Homo sapiens: one gene and its partners. The protein of the gene in region 1 interacts with the protein of each later gene in a biochemical or structural test. Each region holds a gene or a part of one and is shown in the gene's direction. Other genes may lie near its edges.

What was found. The genes of interacting proteins can lie anywhere in the genome.
Region 2: the proteins of ACAT1 (region 1) and PDP1 form a complex in vitro, tested with the Homo sapiens proteins (one study listed by BioGRID).
Region 3: of the proteins of ACAT1 (region 1) and GLDC, one has a biochemical effect on the other in vitro, tested with the Homo sapiens proteins (one study listed by BioGRID).

What each region holds. Positions count from the first base shown.
Region 1 is NC_000011.10:108,124,554-108,131,585, forward strand, and holds part of ACAT1 (acetyl-CoA acetyltransferase, mitochondrial isoform b precursor), read left to right. Parts: intron 1-3,332; exon of another isoform or gene 3,333-3,426; intron 3,427-4,089; exon of another isoform or gene 4,090-4,306; intron 4,307-4,549; exon of another isoform or gene 4,550-4,648; intron 4,649-7,032. UniProt on the Homo sapiens protein: This is one of the enzymes that catalyzes the last step of the mitochondrial beta-oxidation pathway, an aerobic process breaking down fatty acids into acetyl-CoA.
Region 2 is NC_000008.11:93,919,891-93,926,568, forward strand, and holds the end of PDP1 (pyruvate dehyrogenase phosphatase catalytic subunit 1), read left to right. Parts: intron 1-1,336; exon of another isoform or gene 1,337-1,473; intron 1,474-2,125; coding exon of another isoform or gene 2,126-2,169; coding exon 2,170-3,783; 3' UTR 3,784-6,178; downstream 6,179-6,678. UniProt on the Homo sapiens protein: Mitochondrial enzyme that catalyzes the dephosphorylation and concomitant reactivation of the alpha subunit of the E1 component of the pyruvate dehydrogenase complex (PDC), thereby stimulating the conversion of pyruvate into acetyl-CoA.
Region 3 is NC_000009.12:6,642,730-6,650,725, reverse strand, and holds the start of GLDC (glycine dehydrogenase (decarboxylating), mitochondrial precursor), read left to right. Parts: upstream 1-4,996; 5' UTR 4,997-5,226; coding exon 5,227-5,481; intron 5,482-6,033; coding exon 6,034-6,112; intron 6,113-7,996. UniProt on the Homo sapiens protein: The glycine cleavage system catalyzes the degradation of glycine.

The sequences.
Region 1 (7,032 bases):
AGGTGTGAGCCACCACACCTGGCCCCCTTCCCTTTTTCTAATCTTACCCTAGTACACTCAGTTCCCCCGCAGCCAGAGTGGTCTTTTTATAACATAAAAGCTTTCAGTGGCTTGTCATTGCCCATAGGCCAGAATCTAGACCCTTATGATCTGCTGGGCCCTACTTAGTTCTGTGGCCTCAGCTGCTGCCGTGCTCACTCTGCTTTTGCCACAGGACCCTTCTTTCTATACTTAGTATGTGTGCCAATTTTGTTCCGAATTCGTGGCCTTAGTCCTACGTGTTCCTGATGCCTCAAATGTTCTTTTCCTGGATCTTTCCAAGGATGACTCTTTAACATTCATTTCTCAGCTCCATTAACATTGCTAGAAGGCCTTTTTTGACTCTCCCATGTAAAGTAGGCCGTCAGTTACTCTCTAGTTCATGATCAATTTTGCTGGTTTCATAACATTTACTGTAGCTGAAATTTTGTTTCTCTGAGTTATTGGTAACTTTCAGACTGTCTTCAAATATTTGTTTTGTGTCTGCTGCCATCACTGGGATAGAAAATAAATAAAATCAGTCTCTTCTTGGAATTCACAGTCTAGTGAGGAGAAAAGCCACCTGAGGGTTACAAAATTATATATTCTGGAACAATTAGAATGTGCACGGGCGTTGTGGAAGCTGAGATAGGAGTGCTGACCTCTGCCTGGCATGGCTGAGCCCTCCCTGAAAGATAATTGTGTTATGTAGATAAAACTTAATGGGTTGTGTTCATTCAGCATGTATTATTATACACTATATGGTTCAGTGTCCTGACCATACTATAATTTTGTCATTCGTTTCTGATATTGAAGGAGCGCTAGGCACTGTGCTAAGTCATAGGGATGTAACAGTGAGCAAGAGACACCATCCCGCCATCAGGAAGCCTGTATTATGTTGGAGGGGTGGATAATAAAACAAAGATGTGAACCACATACTTACAGTGTAAGAGGTGCTTTGAAGGAAATAAAGATATTCATATAAAAGAGAGGAAAAAGTAGAGGGTAACTTTAAATAGAGTAGTTAGGGTGGACCACTCTGGGAATGTGTCATTAGAAAAGACATGAAGAATAGGCTGGGTGTGGTGGCTCACGCCTGTAATCCCAGCACTTTGGGAGGCTGAGGCGGGCAGATCACCAGGTCAGGAGATCGAGACTATCCTGGCTAACAAGGTGAAACCCTGTCTCTATAAAAATGCAGAAAATTAGCCAGGCGTGGTGGCGGGCGCTTGTAGTCCCAGCTACCTGGAAGGCTGAGGCAGGAGAATGGCGTGAACCTGGGAGGCGGAGCTTGCAGTGAGCCGAGATCGCGCCACTGCACTCCAGTCTGGGTGACAAAGTGAGACTCCGTCTAAAAAAAAAAAAAAAGAAAAGACATGAAGAATAAAAATGAGCCAGCCATGGAGAGCTGGGAAGACTTTTTGTTTTGTTTTGTTTTTGATTTTTTTGGAGACAGGATCACACTCTGTTGCACAGGCTAGAGGGCAGCGGCGCGATCTCGGCTCACTGAAACTTCTGCCTCCTGGATTCAAGCGATTCTCCCACCTCAACCTCCCAAGTAGCTGGGACTACAGGTGCCCACCCCCACACCTGGCTAATTTTTGTATTTTTAGTAGACACGGGGTTTCACCATGTTGGCCAGGCTGGTCTCAAACTTCTAATCTCAAGTGATCCACCTGCCTCGGCCTCCCAAAGGGCTGGGATTATAGGCATGAGCCACTAGGCCCGGCCTGAGGAGACTATTACTGGCAGAGGCACACTGCAGAGACCTTGAGGTATCGGGATAGGGTTTAGAACAAAGAGATGCCAGTGGCTGGCACAGAGCAAGAGTGATGTAAATTTGGAGAGAAAACCTAGAGCCAGATCATGCAGGTTCTTGGAGGATGAGGTAAAGAATTTGTATATAATTCCAAGAGCAATGAAAAGCTGTTAAATTATTTTAAGCAGTAGAGTGATATGATCTGATTTACATTTTTCAAAGCTGGAGGGACTGTAGAGAGGTGTCAGGGGAGGCAGGGAACTAGGTAGAAGGCCATTAATAGGAACAAGAGATGGTGGCTTGGACTAGGTGGCAGCAGTAGACATGAGGCAGAGTGGACGAATTTAGTTATGTTTTGGACGCTGTTCACAGTATCTGGATTTTAGGGATTGCAATAAAGGGAAGGATGAAGGATGATTTTGGCTTGAGCACCTGAGAATACCGGCAACAAACAGGTTTTCTTTTTTTTTTTTTTTTTTTTGAGATGGAGTCTTCTCTGTCACCCAGGCTGGAGTGCAATGGCGCAATCTCAGCTCACTGCAACCTCCACCTCCCGGGTTTAAGCAGTTCTCTTGCCTTAGCCTCTGGAGTAGCTGGGATTACAGGCGCGTGCCACCATGCCCTGTTATTTTTTTATTTTATTTTATTTTTATTTTTTTGTATTTTTGGTAGAGACGGGGTTTCAGCATGTTGGCCAGGCTGGTCTGGAACTCCTGACCTCGTGATCCGCCCCCCTCGGCCTCCCAAACTGCTGGGATTACAGGGGTGAGCCACTGCACCTGGCCACAAACAGGTTTTCTAGGGTTGGAAATTGAGAGCTATGATTTGGACATTCACCTGCAGCTGTCAGGTTGGCGCTTGGGTGTGAGTCTGGTGGTCAGTTGAAAGGTCAGGGTTGGAGATAGAAATTTGGAAAATCATCAGCACATAGAAGCCTTTTTTTTTTTTTTTTGAGACAGAGTCTCACTCTGTCACCCAGGCTGGAGTGCAGTGGCGTGATCTTGGCTTACTGCAAGCTCCACTTCCCGGGTTCACACCATTCTCCCACCTCAGCCTCCCAAATAGCTAGGGCTACAGGTGCCCGCCACCACGCCTGGCTAATTTTGTTTTTGTATTTTTAGTAGATATGGGGTTTCACCGTGTTAGCCAGGATGGTCTCTATCTCCCGACCTCGTGATCTGCCTGCCTTGGCCTCCCAAAGTGCTGGGATTACAGGCGTGAGCCACTGTGCCCGGCCTCATAAATGCTTTTTAAAGCCATGGGACTGGATATAACTAAGGATATAGTGAAGTTAAATTAAAAGAGGCCTGGAACAAAGCCCTGGGACATTCAGCACTTGGAGGTTGGAAGGGGAAGATGAGATAGTAAAGGAGACTGAGGTAAATATGACTAATGAGGTAGGAAGGAGTCCACGTTTGTAATGGAAGCCAAGACAAGGAAGGGTTTCTGCAGTGGATTATACATATTACCTCATTTTATTCTCATAACAGCCTGTGGAGGGTATTTAAGAAAACCAAGGTAAGTGTGTCTAAGTAACTTGCTCAAAAATACTCAGCTTGCAGGGCACAGTGGCTCACGCCTGTAATCCCAGCACTTTGGAAGGCCAACGCAGGAGGATCGCTTGAGCCCAGGAGTTTGAGACCAGCTTGGTAAGATAGTGAGACTCTGTCTCTACAAAACAAACAAACAAAGAATACTGAGCTGGTAAGCCCAGGCTCTTAACTGCTCAGCATATTTCTCAAAGAAAGGTGAGCCCAGTCTTGCTGATGTGTTAAAAGGTTAAGTGAGACAATTATAGCGAGTTGGATTTTGCTACACAGACATTGCTGATGTTGCTCAGAACCAACAGTGGTAAACTGGCAGAAATAAAATCCTGATCTGAGTGGGTTGAACTGTAAAGAGGAGGTGAGGACAAGCAAATAGACACTGTAGGTAACCTGGAGAACCTTTCTTGCCAAAGAGAACTAAAGTAAGGTGAGGCCATGTGCAGTGGCTCATGCCTGTAATCCCAGCACTTTGGGAGGCCGAGGCAGGCGGATCACCTGAGGTCAGGAGTTCAAAATCAGCCTGGCCAACGTGGTGAAACCCTGTCTCTACTAAAAATACAAAAATTAGCCGGGCGTGGTGGCGCATGCCTGTAGTCCCAGGTACTCGGGAGGCTGAGGCAGGAGAATTGCTTGAACCTGGGAGGCAGAGGTTGCAGTGAGCTGAGATCGCACCACTGCACTCCAGCCTTTTTTCAAAAAGAAATGAGGTGAAAGCTCGGGAATGTGGGTCAAGAGACATTTATTTGTTTTTACTTTGTTTTTTAGGTGGGGGGAATCAGATCCTGTTTGTATGCTTATGGAATTATCCAGAAGTAAAAGGGGTGAATGATGTAGAGGAGAAGGAAGGGATAACTGTGCCATCTTTGAAAAGGCAACTGGAAATGGGATCCAGAGTAAAGTGGAGAGAACCAGGGAAGATTCCATTAAACTGGACCAGAAGCTTGAAAGAAGAGAAGTGGCTTAGTAAACAAGGAACAAACTAGCTAAGTAGAAAGGGGACTTTTAAAATTTAATTTTTATTTCAATAGGCTTTTGGGAACAGGTGGTGTTGGATTATATGAATAAGTTCTTTATTGGTGGTATCTGATATTTTGGTGCACCCATCACCTGAGCAGTATACACTGTAAACCAATGTGTAGTCTTTTATTCCTCACCCCCACCCCCCGCCTTTCCCCTGAGTCCCCAAAGTCCACTGTATCATTCTTATGCCTTTGTGTCCTCATAGCGCAGCTCCCACTTATGAGTGAGAACATAAGCTGTTTGGTGTTTCCATTCCTGAGTTACTTCACTTAGAATAATAGTCTCCAATTCCATCCAGGTTGCAGTGAGTGCCATTATTTCATTCCTTGTTACGGCTGAGTAGTATTCCATGGTATATATACCACATTTGCTTTATCCACTTGTTGATTGATGGGCATTTGGGCTGGTTCCATATTTTTGCAATTGCAAATTGTGCTGCTATGAACATGCGTGTGCAAGTGTCTTTTTCGTGTAACGACTTTTTTTTTTGAGATGGAGTCTTGCTCTGTCGCCCAGGCTGGAATGCAGTGGCGTGATCTCGGCTCACTGCAACTTCTGCCTCCTGGGTTCAAGCGATTCTCCTGCTTCAGCTTCCCGAGTAGCTGGGATTACAGACGTGTGCCACCACGTCCAGCTAATTTTTGTATTTTTAGTAGAGTTGGGGTTTCACCATGTTGGCCAGGCTGGTCTTGAACTCCCGACCTCATTATCCGCCCGCCTCAGCCTCCTAAAGTGCTGGGATTAAAGGCATGAGCCACTGTGCCTGGCCTTCATATAATGACTTCTTTTCCTCTGGGTAGATACCCAGTAGTGGAATTGCTGGATCAAATGGTAGTTCTAGTTTTAGTTCTTTAAGGAGTCTTCAGAAAGGGGACTTTTTGAAGAGATACAATGGGCAAGCACTAGGACATCCAAGGATAGGAAATAAAGTGCAGCTGGCTGGGTACAGGGATGTGTGCCTGTAGTCGCAGATACTTGGGAGGCTGAGGCAGGAGGATTGCTTGAGTCCAGGAGTTCTGGTTTATTTTTTATTTTTATATATGAAAATTTTCAAACAAAATAAATTGCAACTGACCCTGCCAGAACCCAAGCTAGAAAATCACTAACCAAAGCCATCTTTTGCCTCTTGTGGTGTGCCATGGTCTATTTCTCCTGTCTCTGAGTATATATGTTGCATTCTTTTGCTTCTCAGTGTATTCATGGCTTTTCTCTTTGTTCTAACCGCTGCTTTTCTGTGGCATTGGCTGGTCAGCTCCAGCCCCTTTTGACTTTTCAGTCCCAGTCCCCACCGTCATCCAACTGACCCAGTCTCTCTGGGTCCTAGCTTGGGTGAGTCCATTCCATTCTTGATCCCATCAGCTCTGGCCAGAGGCAGGGGAGTCACCTTGTAAGTACTTAGGGTTGTCCTTTGAGAAAGACATGTGTTTGGAGAGGCAGTGACCGGCATGTTTACTACAAGTAGGAACTTTTTTTTTTGTAAGTTTTTAAATTATTATTTTTTAAATTTATTATCATTTTTTGAGACTCGCTCTGTCGCCCAGGCTGGAGTACAGTGGCGTGATCTTGGCTCACTGCAAGCTCTGCCTCCCAGGTTCAAGTGATTCTCCTGCCTCAGACTCCTGAGTAGCTGGGCTTACATGCATGGACCACCACACCCAGCTAACTTTTATATTTCTAGTAGAGACGGGGTTTGACCATGTTGGTCAGGCTGGTCTTGAACTCCTGTCCTCATGATCCACCCGCCTCGGCCTCCAAAGTGCTGGGATTACAGGCATGAGCCACTGCGCCCAGCTACTGATAGTCTAATTTCAGATCAGTAGGTCTCTGAATTGTGTCCTGCGTTGTCAGAATTAATTAATTAATCTATTTATTATGGAGTTTCACTCTTGTCTCCCAGGCTGGAGTGCAGTGGCGTGATCTTGGCTCACTGCAACCTCCGCCTCCTGGGTTCAAGCAATTCTTCTGCCTCATCCTCCTGAGTGGCTGGGATTACAGGTGCCCGCTACCACGCCTGGCTAATTTTTGTATTTTTAGTAGAGACGGGGTTTTTTCGCCAAGTTGGCCAGGCTGATCTCTAACTCCTGACCTCCAGTGATATGCCCACCGCAGCCTTCCAAAGTGTTGGGATTACAGGCGTGAGCCACTTGCCCAGCCTACTGTTGACATTTGTTCCTAAGAAGTGTGGAAAGAACTGAGAAGTAGTAGGGGCAAGATGTTTACTCTTTCCTTTTTTAAGAAATAATTTATCTGCTATTATAGGTCATATTTATATGAGATGTGTTTGCCTCATATAAATCAGACAATTGTTGGAAGTGGATAGGGAGAAACAGCAAGTTTTACTTGAAAACAATCTTAAAAAATGAAAATATCTTGTTAGATTCTAAGACTAAATAATTTAGAACCTAGCTTTAACTCAAAACTACATTTTAGAAAGCTATATTTAAGAAAGACTTGGAATTTTTTTTTTTTTTTTTTAGACAGTCTTGCTTTGTTGCCAAGGCTGGAGTGTAGTCCCAGAATCTTGGCTCACTGCAACCTCCGCCTCCTGGGTTCAAGCTATTCTCCTGCCTCAGCCTCTGAAGTAGCTGGGATTATAGGCATGTGCCACAATGCTGGGCTAACTTTTGTATTTTTAGTAGAGACTGGGTCTCACCACGTTGTCCAGGCTGGTCTTGAACTCCTGACCTC
Region 2 (6,678 bases), on another chromosome or scaffold:
CATCTTCTGGCTCAGTCATGTACACTTAACCTCTGGATGACTTTCAGGTATTCAGTTTGAATTTCTTTTATTTAAATGGTTACTCCTGATGGATTCCCGTTTTTCTGGAATTTCTGTTTTTCATTAGTGCATTTCAGAATGCTTTTTTAGTTACGGATTCTTATTTCCAAAATTTTAGCCATTACTTTCTATTGCCTGATCTTGTCTTCATTTTCGTAAACAAATCCCTTCTTAGATAGTGCAGTTAAAATGATGGTACTTTCTACTACTTGCAGAAGAGAATCTGTGTGGCTGGCTTATGCAGTGCTTATTACAGAAACAAACAAGAATCAGTGATTATTCAGTGTTTAGTTTTCTTTGCTTCCCTCTACCCCAATTTATTACTTTTTCTCAAATTATTCTTCAAAAAAGGTACATGAAAATAATATATGGCTGACACATGCTATGATATTTGTTTAGCCGTGGGAAGGAATAGTTGCTATTAACTCAGATGGTTTTATTTTCTGTGTTCCTTTTTGTTTATTGCATTTGTTTATTTAAAGTATTTCCAAAGTGTTTCTTTATAGTACAAATGACTATTTTGAAGCAGTATCTCAAGAATTCAGGGAAAATATATGTTATTGAGGAAGAAGAGGGATTTTTTTTCTTGCCCAAATTATCTAGATTAATGATATATTCATTAAATTTCCCAAATAAATGCCCAGAAATTATTTTCAGCGCACATAGTGAGTGATAGGATTTTTTTTAAGTTTGTAATTATATTGCTGTACCTTTTCAATCCAAACCTTAGACTATTATTTGACTATACTGCTTCCCTGGAGCAAGTAAATACCTTTTTTTTTTTTTTTTAATGTGAGAGAAAACATTTTTGGTCTTTTAAAATTTATTTTTAATTTACAATTGACACATAATATTATATATTTATGGGGTACAATGTGATGTTTCAGTGCATGTATATATTGGTAGACATTGTGTAATGATCAAATCAGAGTGATTACCATATCCAAGAAAACATTTTTCTAGGGGTTAATTCTACTTTGGATCCATAGTAGATGAAAATACTTCTATGGGTTTTCCTTATAGCTGCTAAGCAGGGAACATTGTTAGTAGGTAAATTAAGTTCTAGGACTGAAACCATTTATGTTACTAACAAAGCTTTAGAGCTACTGCAATACTTAAACTTTTTTTTTTTTTTTAATCATGAAGGGCACGGTAGAATTCAACAGTGAATAAATGAAACCTGAATTTTATTTAAAAACCTCACTTCCATAAGCATAAAGGCATGAATCCTAGAAGAGCCTTAGATAGCATCTGCTCTGTTGATGTTCCTTTACAGGTTAGAAGAGTGAGACTCAAAGATGTGAGCTGACTTTTCCAAGATTATTTGGGAGTTGGTGGCAGACCTATGCCCGTTAGCCTGGCAAATTGCCACAGTGGACTAGAGAAGCAAGTTTTGCAAGACCATCTACTGGGGTACAGGAGAGAAATACTGGAATTTCTTTTTTTATTTAATTATGTAGAAATTTTTCTATATATGTTACAATGCATATTACTGTAGTCATATATGTATATGATGTACACGTAATTCATAAATACACATATGTTTGGCTGCCTCTTAACATTTTTGGTCATAGCCATGTGTAATCATGCCAAAAATTGACCACAGGTCTATGTAAAGGGTCTTCATAAATGGAAGAAGTCCCTGTGTAAAATGGGAGATTTCAAGGCATTTTTTAAGAATAGGGAGGGAGAAGGATGATTGGTCAGGTAGACGGCTACTGCATAATGTTATATAACCTTCATCTCCTCAGCTTTCCCCAGCCAAATCTGTTGTACATTCTGCACAGTTTGTACTGCACAAAGGACGACAAAGAAAAGAGAAAATTGAAGTTTGAGTATAGGAGCCAGGAGTTCAGTCGTGGTTCCACGAATGATTGGGAGTTGTGCCTGCCAGAATATACCCTGTAGAAATAGTACATGATGTGTGTATAAAATGTAGTACCTTCTAGCAAAGGCTTAACATGTAGATTGACTTGCTTAATATTTGTTATAAAGGCAAAGCTAGATTAAGTATCCTGAAATGTAACTCTTTCCTTTGTGTACATCTGTCTAATTTGCTGTCTAGGAATCCCAGTCAGAAGTTCCAGCCTGCCACTGTTCTCTGATGCCATGCCAGCACCAACTCAACTGTTTTTTCCTCTCATCCGTAACTGTGAACTGAGCAGGATCTATGGCACTGCATGTTACTGCCACCACAAACATCTCTGTTGTTCCTCATCGTACATTCCTCAGAGTCGACTGAGATACACACCTCATCCAGCATATGCTACCTTTTGCAGGCCAAAGGAGAACTGGTGGCAGTACACCCAAGGAAGGAGATATGCTTCCACACCACAGAAATTTTACCTCACACCTCCACAAGTCAATAGCATCCTTAAAGCTAATGAATACAGTTTCAAAGTGCCAGAATTTGACGGCAAAAATGTCAGTTCTATCCTTGGATTTGACAGCAATCAGCTGCCTGCAAATGCACCCATTGAGGACCGGAGAAGTGCAGCAACCTGCTTGCAGACCAGAGGGATGCTTTTGGGGGTTTTTGATGGCCATGCAGGTTGTGCTTGTTCCCAGGCAGTCAGTGAAAGACTCTTTTATTATATTGCTGTCTCTTTGTTACCCCATGAGACTTTGCTAGAGATTGAAAATGCAGTGGAGAGCGGCCGGGCACTGCTACCCATTCTCCAGTGGCACAAGCACCCCAATGATTACTTTAGTAAGGAGGCATCCAAATTGTACTTTAACAGCTTGAGGACTTACTGGCAAGAGCTTATAGACCTCAACACTGGTGAGTCGACTGATATTGATGTTAAGGAGGCTCTAATTAATGCCTTCAAGAGGCTTGATAATGACATCTCCTTGGAGGCGCAAGTTGGTGATCCTAATTCTTTTCTCAACTACCTGGTGCTTCGAGTGGCATTTTCTGGAGCCACTGCTTGTGTGGCCCATGTGGATGGTGTTGACCTTCATGTGGCCAATACTGGCGATAGCAGAGCCATGCTGGGTGTGCAGGAAGAGGACGGCTCATGGTCAGCAGTCACGCTGTCTAATGACCACAATGCTCAAAATGAAAGAGAACTAGAACGGCTGAAATTGGAACATCCAAAGAGTGAGGCCAAGAGTGTCGTGAAACAGGATCGGCTGCTTGGCTTGCTGATGCCATTTAGGGCATTTGGAGATGTAAAGTTCAAATGGAGCATTGACCTTCAAAAGAGAGTGATAGAATCTGGCCCAGACCAGTTGAATGACAATGAATATACCAAGTTTATTCCTCCTAATTATCACACACCTCCTTATCTCACTGCTGAGCCAGAGGTAACTTACCACCGATTAAGGCCACAGGATAAGTTTCTGGTGTTGGCTACTGATGGGTTGTGGGAGACTATGCATAGGCAGGATGTGGTTAGGATTGTGGGTGAGTACCTAACTGGCATGCATCACCAACAGCCAATAGCTGTTGGTGGCTACAAGGTGACTCTGGGACAGATGCATGGCCTTTTAACAGAAAGGAGAACCAAAATGTCCTCGGTATTTGAGGATCAGAACGCAGCAACCCATCTCATTCGCCACGCTGTGGGCAACAACGAGTTTGGGACTGTTGATCATGAGCGCCTCTCTAAAATGCTTAGTCTTCCTGAAGAGCTTGCTCGAATGTACAGAGATGACATTACAATCATTGTAGTTCAGTTCAATTCTCATGTTGTAGGGGCGTATCAAAACCAAGAATAGTGAGTGGCTCTTTCACTGGCAATTCTCAAATGATATACATTTAAAGGGCAGATTTTTTAAAAAGATACTACTATAATAAACATTTCCAGTTGGTCATTCTAAGCATTTACCCTTTTGATACTCTAGCTAGTCAGGTACTCCAAATTGACTTTGCAGCAGGGTGGCAGGGTCAGGAGAGTCTGGTCCTGCCTAGCTCAGATTTCATGGCACCTGCACTTGAAGCAAGTCACTTCTTTATCACAGGTGTCTTGAAACATTAGCTTCTTTTACCAACCTGAGAAAATTAGGATGACCTGGCAAATAAGATCTTGAATAGGCCAAAAGCAAGTATCTTGCTGTGTGTAGTCTCTTGGTTAAAGTGAAGAAACAGTACTGTTCACACCTTTCTTCACTGAGATTCCAGTGTACATGAGAACATATATTTATTGCATGATTTTCTAGATACACAGTCTATGCATTATTCATATACATTTATTTTAGCCTAAAGTGGTTTTCAAATCCAGTTCTTCAAGCCATAAATGACCAAGATCCAAGCAATCTGAATTTGTTTTTGTGATTATTTGACTGGAATGCTTCTTAAGTGGAATAACTATACTCCGTTATCCACCCGATTTCCTAATGTAATTGAAAGATTTTCTATTTTGCCACACACTTGGAGACAATAAGGGTTTTTAGTTTTATCTACTCTTCTATTGAAGTTAAAGAAAGAAAAAAAGATTTTTTTATTTGTATTAATGAAAAGCTTTAGTTTAAAATAAGGAGATCCAGAATAAAAAGAAGAGACTGATCTCTTCAATTATTGTCATCTGTAGCCACCAGCACATCACTCTTATGTAATCCCCAAAGGCTTGGCATGCCGTAAGTGTGTGGTGGGTAGACTGCTGCCGGGGAATCGTACTTCTTATTTAGTAATGATAAGACTTTTCATTATTTTTGGAATTTTAAAGATGACATAAATAAGTTTAAATATCAATTTGGGGAGTAAGGTTTAATATTGCCATCGGGTATTGAGACAGGAGGAAGTTTCTGTTTTTCTCCATTTAGACATAGGTCAATTAAAATATTTGGGTTTAAAATGACTAAATGCTTTAAACATATTGTAGCTTAAGATATATGTGTTAAGATATATACATGAGAAACTTTAAAAGGTAACTACTGTGCATGCCTGATGCTTAATAGAATACTTAGTGGCATCAAATGTTTGCAGCAGTCTCCATAATTATATTCAGTCCCTTCTAATACTGTATCAATGTAAATGAAATAAATATATTCAAATTGGCTTTTTGATATGCATCAAGTGGCATTTTGTTCCTGTGTTTAATAGTGATCTGTATACAGCTGTGCACATATTGTCATCACTTATTCTAGCATCACTGTTAAGGCTGTGATTATGTTTGATATTCACCTGGATTTTAATACAAGCCAATATCAGCTTCCCATTGTGTAATAACTTGGGTGTTTAGGAGTCTTTTCACATTTTTTGGGGATATGAACTAGATGTTCAAGAACTCCTTCTGGACTGTGGATACTGAATCAGTGTACTATTGGCTGCAGAATTTGTTTCAATTGAAAATAGACTCAGGAAGATTGCTGCTCAGAATATCATATAATGTTTATTTTTTGAGGTGTTTTTGTTTTTATTTGTGTGTTTTTTTTTTTTTAAGTCAGCTTGGAACTTTTTTCCTGGGTAGTATTTGGGAGAGGGAAAGGCTGTACTATATATTTATTTCTAAATGTTTTGACTGGGCATTTTTCTTTTAATGAAATATGTGGACTGCTCTAGCAAACCCTATTTTCAGCTACTATTTGAATATTCTTGAACACCACCACTGAAGAGTTTCATATACACCAAATAATGTCTCATCTCTATAGTACAGGGAATATAAAATTGGTTTCCTGTGGTCATGATCAAGATAGTAGTATTATTACACAAGAAACTTGGTCTGCAGTCTGGAAGCTTGTCTGCTCTATAGAAATGAAAATGCAGCATGAAGTTGACATTGTGGAAATGAAAGTAATTGGGTATTAGAAATCTGAAAGTACTGTCATCTAAAAGCAATTGTGATTTTATTGTAATTGGTTGTCACTGTTGTACGGTGTCTAGAATTAAAGAATACATGTAAACTTTCATGGTATTTAGCCTTTCTTAAATTTTTTTAAAATTTAAACTTTCTAACCTATGTATTCAACTTCTGTATTTATATTTAATCAGTGGTTCATGTTATATAATACACCCTTAACTAGTTAAATGGAATGTTGGTATGGTACAGAGTACCATATTGCTAAGAAAACTGTCTTATAAAAGATGTATATGTGTGAAGACATGAAAGTTTAATGTACAGAATGGTTGGAGAAATGCCTATGGTGAATTAAAGCTTCATATCTGCTTTCTGAATGTCCTGTGTTGGTTTTTAATAACAAGATTGATTAGATGCTTCCTATGTGTGGTAGATTATATTTAATTTTAGGACCCAGTAGATACATAGTACTTCAAATTTGTAAAAATTGAGGTAAAATTTTTTTTCTTTTTTTTTTGAGATGGAGTCTCGCTCTGTCACCCAGGCTGGAGTGCAGTGGTGCGATCTCATCTTACTGCAGCCTCTGCCTCCTGGGTTCAAGCAGTTCTTCTGCCTCAGCCTCCCAAGTAGCTGGGACTACAGGTGCGGGCCACCACACCTGGCTAATTTTTGTATTTTTAGTAGAGATGGGGTTTCACCATGTTGGCCAGGCTGGTCTTCAACTCCTGACCTTGTGATCCACCCGCCTCGGCCTCCCAAAGTGTTTGGATTACAGGTGTGAGCCACCATGCCTGGCCAAAATTGAGGTATAATTTAAACAAAATGCACAGATTTAAAATTTGCGATGTAACATTTGGTAACACCCCAACAAAGATAT
Region 3 (7,996 bases), on another chromosome or scaffold:
GCAGGCCGACCACAAGGTTAGGAGTTCGAGACCAGCCTGGCCAACATGGTGAAACTCCATCTCTACTAAAAATACAAACAGTAGCTGGGCATGGTGGCGGGTGCCTATAATCCCAGCTACTCGGGAGGCTGAGGCAAGAGAATTGTTTGAACCCGGGAGGCGGATGTTACAGTGAGCTGAGACTGCGCCATTGCACTCCAGCCTGGGCAGCAGAGTGAGACTCTGTCTCAAAAAAAAAAGAAAAGTATTCTGATGAGACTTCTGAATAAGAGGTGGAAGCTGGCTCAGGACAAAATATTTGTGCTAGAGCAGAACGGGCAGGGGAGGAACAAAAGTGGAGGCAGGCCAGGTGCGGTGGCTCACGCCTGTAATCCCAGCACTTTGGGAGGCTGAGACGGGCGGATCACCTGAAGTCAGGAGTTTGAGACCAGCCTGACCAACATGGAGAAACCCCGTCTCTACTAAAAATATGAAAAAATTAGCTGGGCGTGGTGACGCATGCCTGTAATCCCAGCTACTCGGGAGGCTGAGGCAGAAGAATCGCTTGAACCTGGGAGGCGGAGATCGGGACATTGCACTCCAGCCTGGGCAACAAGAGCAAAACTCAAAAAAAAAAGAAAAGGGGGAGGCAAAGGAAAAAACTCCCTGAAAGCTCATACAATGGCAGGGAGTGAATGTGTCTCTCAGGAATCTCTTGCCTTTTTCACCCAAACATTAAGCCCTCCTCAATCTGCTTTTGGCTTCCATTATAGCCTTTGTTTGGGTTTATTCAGGAAAACTAACTGTTTTGAAAAAGCACTATAACTGTGCTTCCTCTGGTCTCACACCACACTACAACAATCAACACAGAAGATTTCCATGATCTGGCTGGGCGTGGTGGCTCATGCCTGTAATCCCAACACTTTTGGAGGCCAGGGTGGGCGGATCACTTGAGGTCAGGAGTTTGAGACCAGCCTGGCCAACATGGGGAAACTCCATCTCTACTAAAAAAAAAAAACACAAAAATTAGTGCGTGTGGTGGCATATGCCTGTAGTCCCTGCTACTCTGGAGGCTGAGGCAGGAGAATTGCTTGAAACTGTGAGGTCGAGGTCACAGTGAGCTGAGATCGCACCACTACACTCCAGCCTGGGCAACAGACCAAGGCTCTGTCTCAATGGAAAAACAGAAAGAAGAAGATGACTTCCATGATCCCGAAATATATGGGGATTTCTCCCCACCAACAAGCAAGCAGTCGGTTCTGAGGCAGACACCAGCTGGGTGCACTCCACTTCAATTCTGACACTCTATCTAGGGATACCGCCAGATCCCAAGGGTTGAGGGCTCAGTCCCCAAGACATCAGTTGCAATTCTAGGCCTCCAGAACTTCTGACGGATCAGCTTGAAGCTGGGGTTTCCATGATCCCTTCTTTGGGTTTGATTAATTTGATAGAATAGCTCACAGAACTCAGGGAAACACTTATGTCTACTGATTTTTTATAAAGGATATTACAAGTAACACAGATGAAGAGATGCGCAGGGCGAGGTAGGTATGGGAGAAGGGGTGAGGACCTTCCATGGCCTCTCCCCATGTGCCACTTTGTGTGTATTCAGCTATCCAGAAGCTCTCTGAAACCTCTCCTCTTGGGTTTTTGTGTGTGTGTTATTTTTGTTTTTTTTTTGAGACCGAGTCTTCCTCTGTTGCCCAGGCTGGAGTGCAGTGGCATGATCTTGGCTCACTGCAACCTCCACCTCCCGGATTCAAGTGATTCTCCTGACTCAGCCTCTTGAGTAGCTGGGACTACAGGTGCCCGCCACCACGCCCGGCTAATTTTTTGTATTTTTAGTAGAGATGGGGTTTCACGGTGTTAGCCAGGATGGTCTCGATCTCCTGACCTTGTGATCCGCCCACCTTGGCCTCCCAAAGTGTTGGGATTACAGGCGTGAGCCACCGCGCCCGGCCAATTTTTGTATTTTTAGTAGAGATGGGATTTCACCCTGTTGGCCAGGCTGGTCTCAATCTCCTGACGTCAAGTGATCCGCCAGCCTTGGCCTCCCAAAGTGCTGGGATTACAGGCATGAGCCACCACGTCCGGCTCTTGGGTTTTTATAGAGGCTTTATTAGGAAGGCATGATTGATTAAGCATTGATCATTGACCCTCTGCCCTACTGAGAAGTTGAGGGTGGGGCTGAAAGTCTCAACTCCCATTATGTCTTTGTCTTTCCAGTGACCAGCCCTATTCTGAAGCTGTTAGTCACATTAGCATACAAAAAGGCAGGAGTCTGGAGATTCCCAAGACTTTAGGAGTTGCAGGCCAGGAAATGGGATGAATACCAGATATGTATTTCACAACATCACACAGACAAATAAACAAAAAACACTCAATGCATTTCAAGCAGAGGAGAATTAAATGTCAGGAATGGGTGCATACAAAACCACTGGAAGAACTGGAAGAGCAAAAACCAGGGAATACCAACGCTATCTTCAGGTCAACCACTGAAGCTCTAGTCTAGTACACAGAAATTCCTGCTGGGGAACTGCAGGACATTCCCATTGGTGGATACAGCTTCCCAGCTACCTCAAGATGGGGTGCTGGTAAGGAAGCATGTCATGTCTGCAGTGGTCCATGCATCTGTCTGCTGCAGTCAGAAAATAAGAAAACAGTTTTTACCTTTGTTCCATTTCCCAATTCTCTCTCTCTCTCTTTTTTTTTTTTTAGGCAGAGTCTTGCTCTATCACCCAGGTTGGAGTGCAGTGGTGCGCTCTCCGCTCACTGCAACCTCTGTTTCCCAGGTTCAAGTGATTCTCATGCCTTAGCCTCCTGAGTAGCTAGGACTACAAGCACGCCCACCAAACTTGGCTAAATTTTTTTTCATATTTGTAGTAGAGATTGAGTTTCGCCATCTTGGCCAAGCTGGTCTTGAACTCCTGTCCTCAAGTGACCTGCCCGCCTCGGCCTCCCAAAGTGCTGGGATTACAGGAGTGAGCCACCGCACCCGGCCCCAATTCTCATATACATATATGTGTGTATATATACATGTTTTTTTTTGGCAGAAGGCAAATAACATCCATCACCACGGAGCCAAAGGGATCTGGGAATTATTGTTCCCTGGCTTCCAGTCCCTCTGATACATAGAAACAACATAGACAGGAATAGGAATAAATGCAGATTACCTCCTCCCTCCAATCCTTCCCCACAACCCCCACCATCTGGCACTGAGGAGATCTCCCAACTTTTATGAAGGTTGTAATTTCAATTCCAAATGGCCGAAAAACTTTTCGGAGACATTCAGCCCAGCCGTCCTAGCTCACCACCCGCCTCCGTCTGCCATACAGACATTTTACCTACTGTTCTTTGTGGTGTATTTTCCTGCCCTCTTTTCCATCTCTACTTTCCTGCCTCTCTGGATAGTCTGTGCCTCCTGGGTACGGAGCCCAGAATCTGTTAAGGGTGATTGGAGGAGGAAACTTAGCAGATAAGCAAGAAAGAGAACAGGTTTTATTTTCCCCTAGTCTAAGTACAAGTAATGTTCTGATTACTTCTGTCCTCTCTTCCCCATATTAGAACAACTGGAATTTTAAAAGTTCATTCTCTTGCTAAAACTGTCATGAGACAGCTGGAGATGGTACATTTACAAAAAATCCAGTTCTAGATGGCTAACTTTCAAAGTAAGACGACAGTGAACAATGTCTATCTTAATATCCTTTGTACTTTTGCTGGGCGCAGTGGCTCACGCCTGTAATGACGGATCACGAGGTCAGGAGATCGAGACCATCCTGCCTAAAACGGTGAAACCCCGTCTCTACTAAAAATAAAAATAAAAAATGGCCGGCCGTGGTGGCACGTGCCTGTAGTCCCAGCTACTCAGGAGCCTGAGGCAGGACAATCGCTTGAACCCGGGAGGTGGAGGTTGCAGTGAGCCAAGATCGCGCCACTGCACTCCAGCCAGGGCGACAGAGCGAGATTCCGTCTCAAAAACAACAACAAAATATCCTTTGTAGTTTTACACACACACGTATATGTATATACAGTACATATATTTAAAAAAACATATACACACACACACACAGTTCTTTTTTTTTTTTTTTTCCTGAGTCTCGTTCTGTGGCCCACGCTGGAGTGCAGTGGTGCGATCACATCTCACTGCAGCCTGAAACTCCCTGACTCAAGCAATCCTCCCACCTCAGCCTCCAGAGTAGCTGGGACTTCAGAAGCACGCAACCACGCCCCACTAATTTTTGTATTTTTTGTAGAGACAGGGTTTCACAATGCTGCCCAAGCTGGTCTCGAACTCCTGGGCTCAAGCTATCCTACCGCGTCGGTTTCCGAAAGTGTTGCGATTACAGGCGTGAGCCATAGCGTTACATGTGGTGGGGGGGAAGAGAGAGAAAGAGAGAGAGTGAGAAGAAGGAGGAGGAGGAGGAGGAGGAGAAAGAAGGAAGAAAGAAAAGAAAAGAAATATAGAGAGGGTGTTCAAATCTACTGTTCAAGTGCTTTCCATGTACATATAATCTCTTTTTAAAATCCCATCCAGCTCTGTTGAGATGAGAAAACTGAAGCTCTGAGAGGTTGAGTAACTTTATCACGCTCCCGCAAAGATAAAAGAACCGCCATCTGCCCATATTAATTTCCCTGAGATGAAATGTGACAGAGAAAGATACCTCAAAATTAAGGAAATGGAGAGCTTCGAGAATCATCTTCCATCTCCGCCGAGTCCCCCAGGAACTTGGCCCGGAGTCTTTGGGCTGTCCCACCTGATCTTGCCCCAGTGCGGCTCCACACCCTGGCGGGCGGCGTACGGAGCGTCCCGGCCCCCGGCACCAGCCAGCGTCGGAGTGGGTAGGACTGGAGATGGCAGCCTCCGGTCCAGGGGAAGCGGGACTCCACGGAAGGGCTGGGAAGAGGGTAGGAAGAGGGGGCGGGGGCGGGAACTGTTCCGCCCCCTCCCCCTCTGTCTACTTTCATTGGCCAAGGGCTTCCTGGCCCCAACCCACCTCCCGCCTCCAGGGCGCCGCTTAAAGTGTGCGGAGCAGGTGCCTTGGGTGGAGCCACAACTTTGCGCGAGTGTCTTGGTTGAGCGCAGCGCCCATTCATTGCCCGCGAGCGTCCATCCATCTGTCCGGCCGACTGTCCAGCGAAAGGGGCTCCAGGCCGGGCGCAGCCGCCACCCGGGGGACCGAGGCCAGGAGAGGGGCCAAGAGCGCGGCTGACCCTTGCGGGCCGGGGCAGGGGACGGTGGCCGCGGCCATGCAGTCCTGTGCCAGGGCGTGGGGGCTGCGCCTGGGCCGCGGGGTCGGGGGCGGCCGCCGCCTGGCTGGGGGATCGGGGCCGTGCTGGGCGCCGCGGAGCCGGGACAGCAGCAGTGGCGGCGGGGACAGCGCCGCGGCTGGGGCCTCGCGCCTCCTGGAGCGCCTTCTGCCCAGACACGACGACTTCGCTCGGAGGCACATCGGCCCTGGGGACAAAGACCAGAGAGAGATGCTGCAGACCTTGGGGCTGGCGGTAAGGACCTCCACCCGGCCCTCCGCGGCCTCCCCTCCGCCCTGCCCGGGCTCTGCCTGCGCGGCCTCCCGGCTCCTACCCTGAGCTCTGCTGCGCTCCGCGTGGTCCCCGCACCCTGGGTCCCGGGCCGTGGCGTGGAAGCAAATTCGTGCCTTTGGTCCTCGTGCCTTCTTACTTCTTAACAGCTTACTTTCTCCTGCACCCAGTCTTCGTGCCTCAAAAGTGTACATTTTTAAACCACCCCCAGCCCAAGTGGCCCTGTGGATGGACCTAAACTTTGCAAGAGGAGGAAGACCCCCTGATTAAGAGTGGGCTTACCGGTTAGCTCCGGTTGCAACTGAAATCCAACCCCGAGTGGCGGAATCTCCACCCCACTTCACGATTTTCTTTCCTCCAAATCATTCTGGCTTGCTCAGAGTTTTCCTTTTCTTTTAAAAAGAACCCTAATTAGGCGATTTCAATGAGGTTCCCACAAGGCTTTGTAGTCGCAAAACACAGAGGTGACTCTTTTAACTCAGAGGCACTTTCCTCTGCCTTGCGTTTTAATTTTAGAGCATTGATGAATTGATCGAGAAGACGGTCCCTGCCAACATCCGTTTGAAAAGACCCTTGAAAATGGAAGACCCTGTTTGTAAGTGGCCGGGAGGGCTCCCTTGGACTTAGATTATTCTGGCCTATTTGTCTTTTGTGGTTCCCTGAAAATCGAGCTCTGGGGTAAGGATTGCTCAGGACTGGGAATGTGTGGATTAAAATAAAACAGTGGCGGGTACCTCCGGAGCCGCGGGAAGGTGGGATATTTGGTTCTCGGAGCAGACAGTTTTGTGTTAGGAGAGAGTCGGTGTTGTGCGGTTCTTGGTCTTTATCCTAGGGCCCCCGCGAGCTTCCCCTGCGTTTTGTAGCAGATTCCCCACTTCCCAGGCACCCTCTCACCGGCCAGGGTGCTCTCATACTTTGGGTTGAGAGGTGTCATTACCTGCGCAGACCCGGATAGACTCAAAGGATCTAGGAATTGCCTAAGGTCGTGCAACTGGGGAAGTGACCAGACATCTCGCCTCCCTCCCCCAGGCTTCTTTAGATCGCAGTATCTTCCAATTGTTTTCTTACCTCACGTCCAAATTTTATTATTTACCAACTGAAAGACAGCAGTACTTTTCGAGTCCGAATGGTTTTTCTTTTCTTTTCTTTTTTTTTTCGTTTTTTTTTTTTTTTTTTTTTGAGACAGAATCTCTGTCGCCCAGGCTGGAGTGCTGTGGCTTGATCTCGGCTCACTGCAACCTCCGCCTCCCTGGTTCAAGCAATTCTCCTGCCTCAGCCTCTTGACTAGCTGGGATTACAGGGGCGCACCACCACACCAGGCTCATTTTTATATTTTTATTAGAGACAGGGTTTCTTCATGTTGGCCAGGCTGGTGTCGAACTCCTGACCTCAGGCAATCCGTCTGCCTCGGCCTCCCAAAATGCTGGGATTACAGGCACGAGTCACTGTGCCCTACCCCGAATGGTTTTTCTAGAAAAACACACAAATAAGATTTACATTTGTTTAAGAAAGGTCAGTTTAGTCATAGACTTTCTTAGAATTTTATTTTAGGTTTAAAATATTTTTAATGGTCCAAGATTGCTTTTCAGGGGTATTTTTATGTGGGTATTTGACTTCCATGGGGTGGGGGGACAATCCATAAGTCAAGGGCACAGGCTGAGCTCTTAAAAAAAATCTCATCTGGTTATCTCACTTTCAATCATGGAGATACTTATCTCTTTTTCTTCTAGAGTCAAATGAAGAGAGAGCAGCTGTTTTATTTTGTTGCTATGATAGAAAGGATCTAGTGTGCAGATGGCAAGCTTTATTTTGTTTGAAGGTGGACATTTGAGGTATGGAGCCTATCTGCTTCAGGTTGGCTGCTCAGGCTATGCTGAGGGCTGCTGCCTTTGTTGGTTTCAAATCTGATGGTCGTTGAAAACCTGCATGTTTTGCTGAATTGAACTAATTGAGATTTAGGGATGGTCGGAGGGAAGCCTTATCTATTTCCATTTTAGAAAATCAGAATCCTGGCTGGGCACGGTGGCAAATGCCTATAATCTCAGCATTTTGGGAGGTCTAGGCAGGTGGATCGCTTGAGGCCAGCAGTTTGAGACCAGTTTGGGCAATATTGCGAGACCCCATCTCTACAAAAAATACAAAAATTAGCCGGGTGTGGTGGTGTGCGCCTGTAATCCCAGCTACTCCGGAGGCTAATGTGGCAGAAACACTTGAGCTGGGCAGTGGAGGTTGCAGCGAGCCAAGATGGCTCCACTGCACTTCCACCTGAGTAACAGAGTGAGACCCTGTCTAAAAAAAAAAGAGAAAGGAAGAAAAGAAAAAATCAGAATCCTAATTCATTTGATGTGTGAAGAGTGAAGAGTTGTGTATCTTTAAAGCAGGGTATTTTAGGTGAATATTTGAACAAGTGAATCCCTTCCTGAGACTTTCAAAGTCAGGGAATGTTTAGGTTAGCTATTTTTATAATATATATACTCTA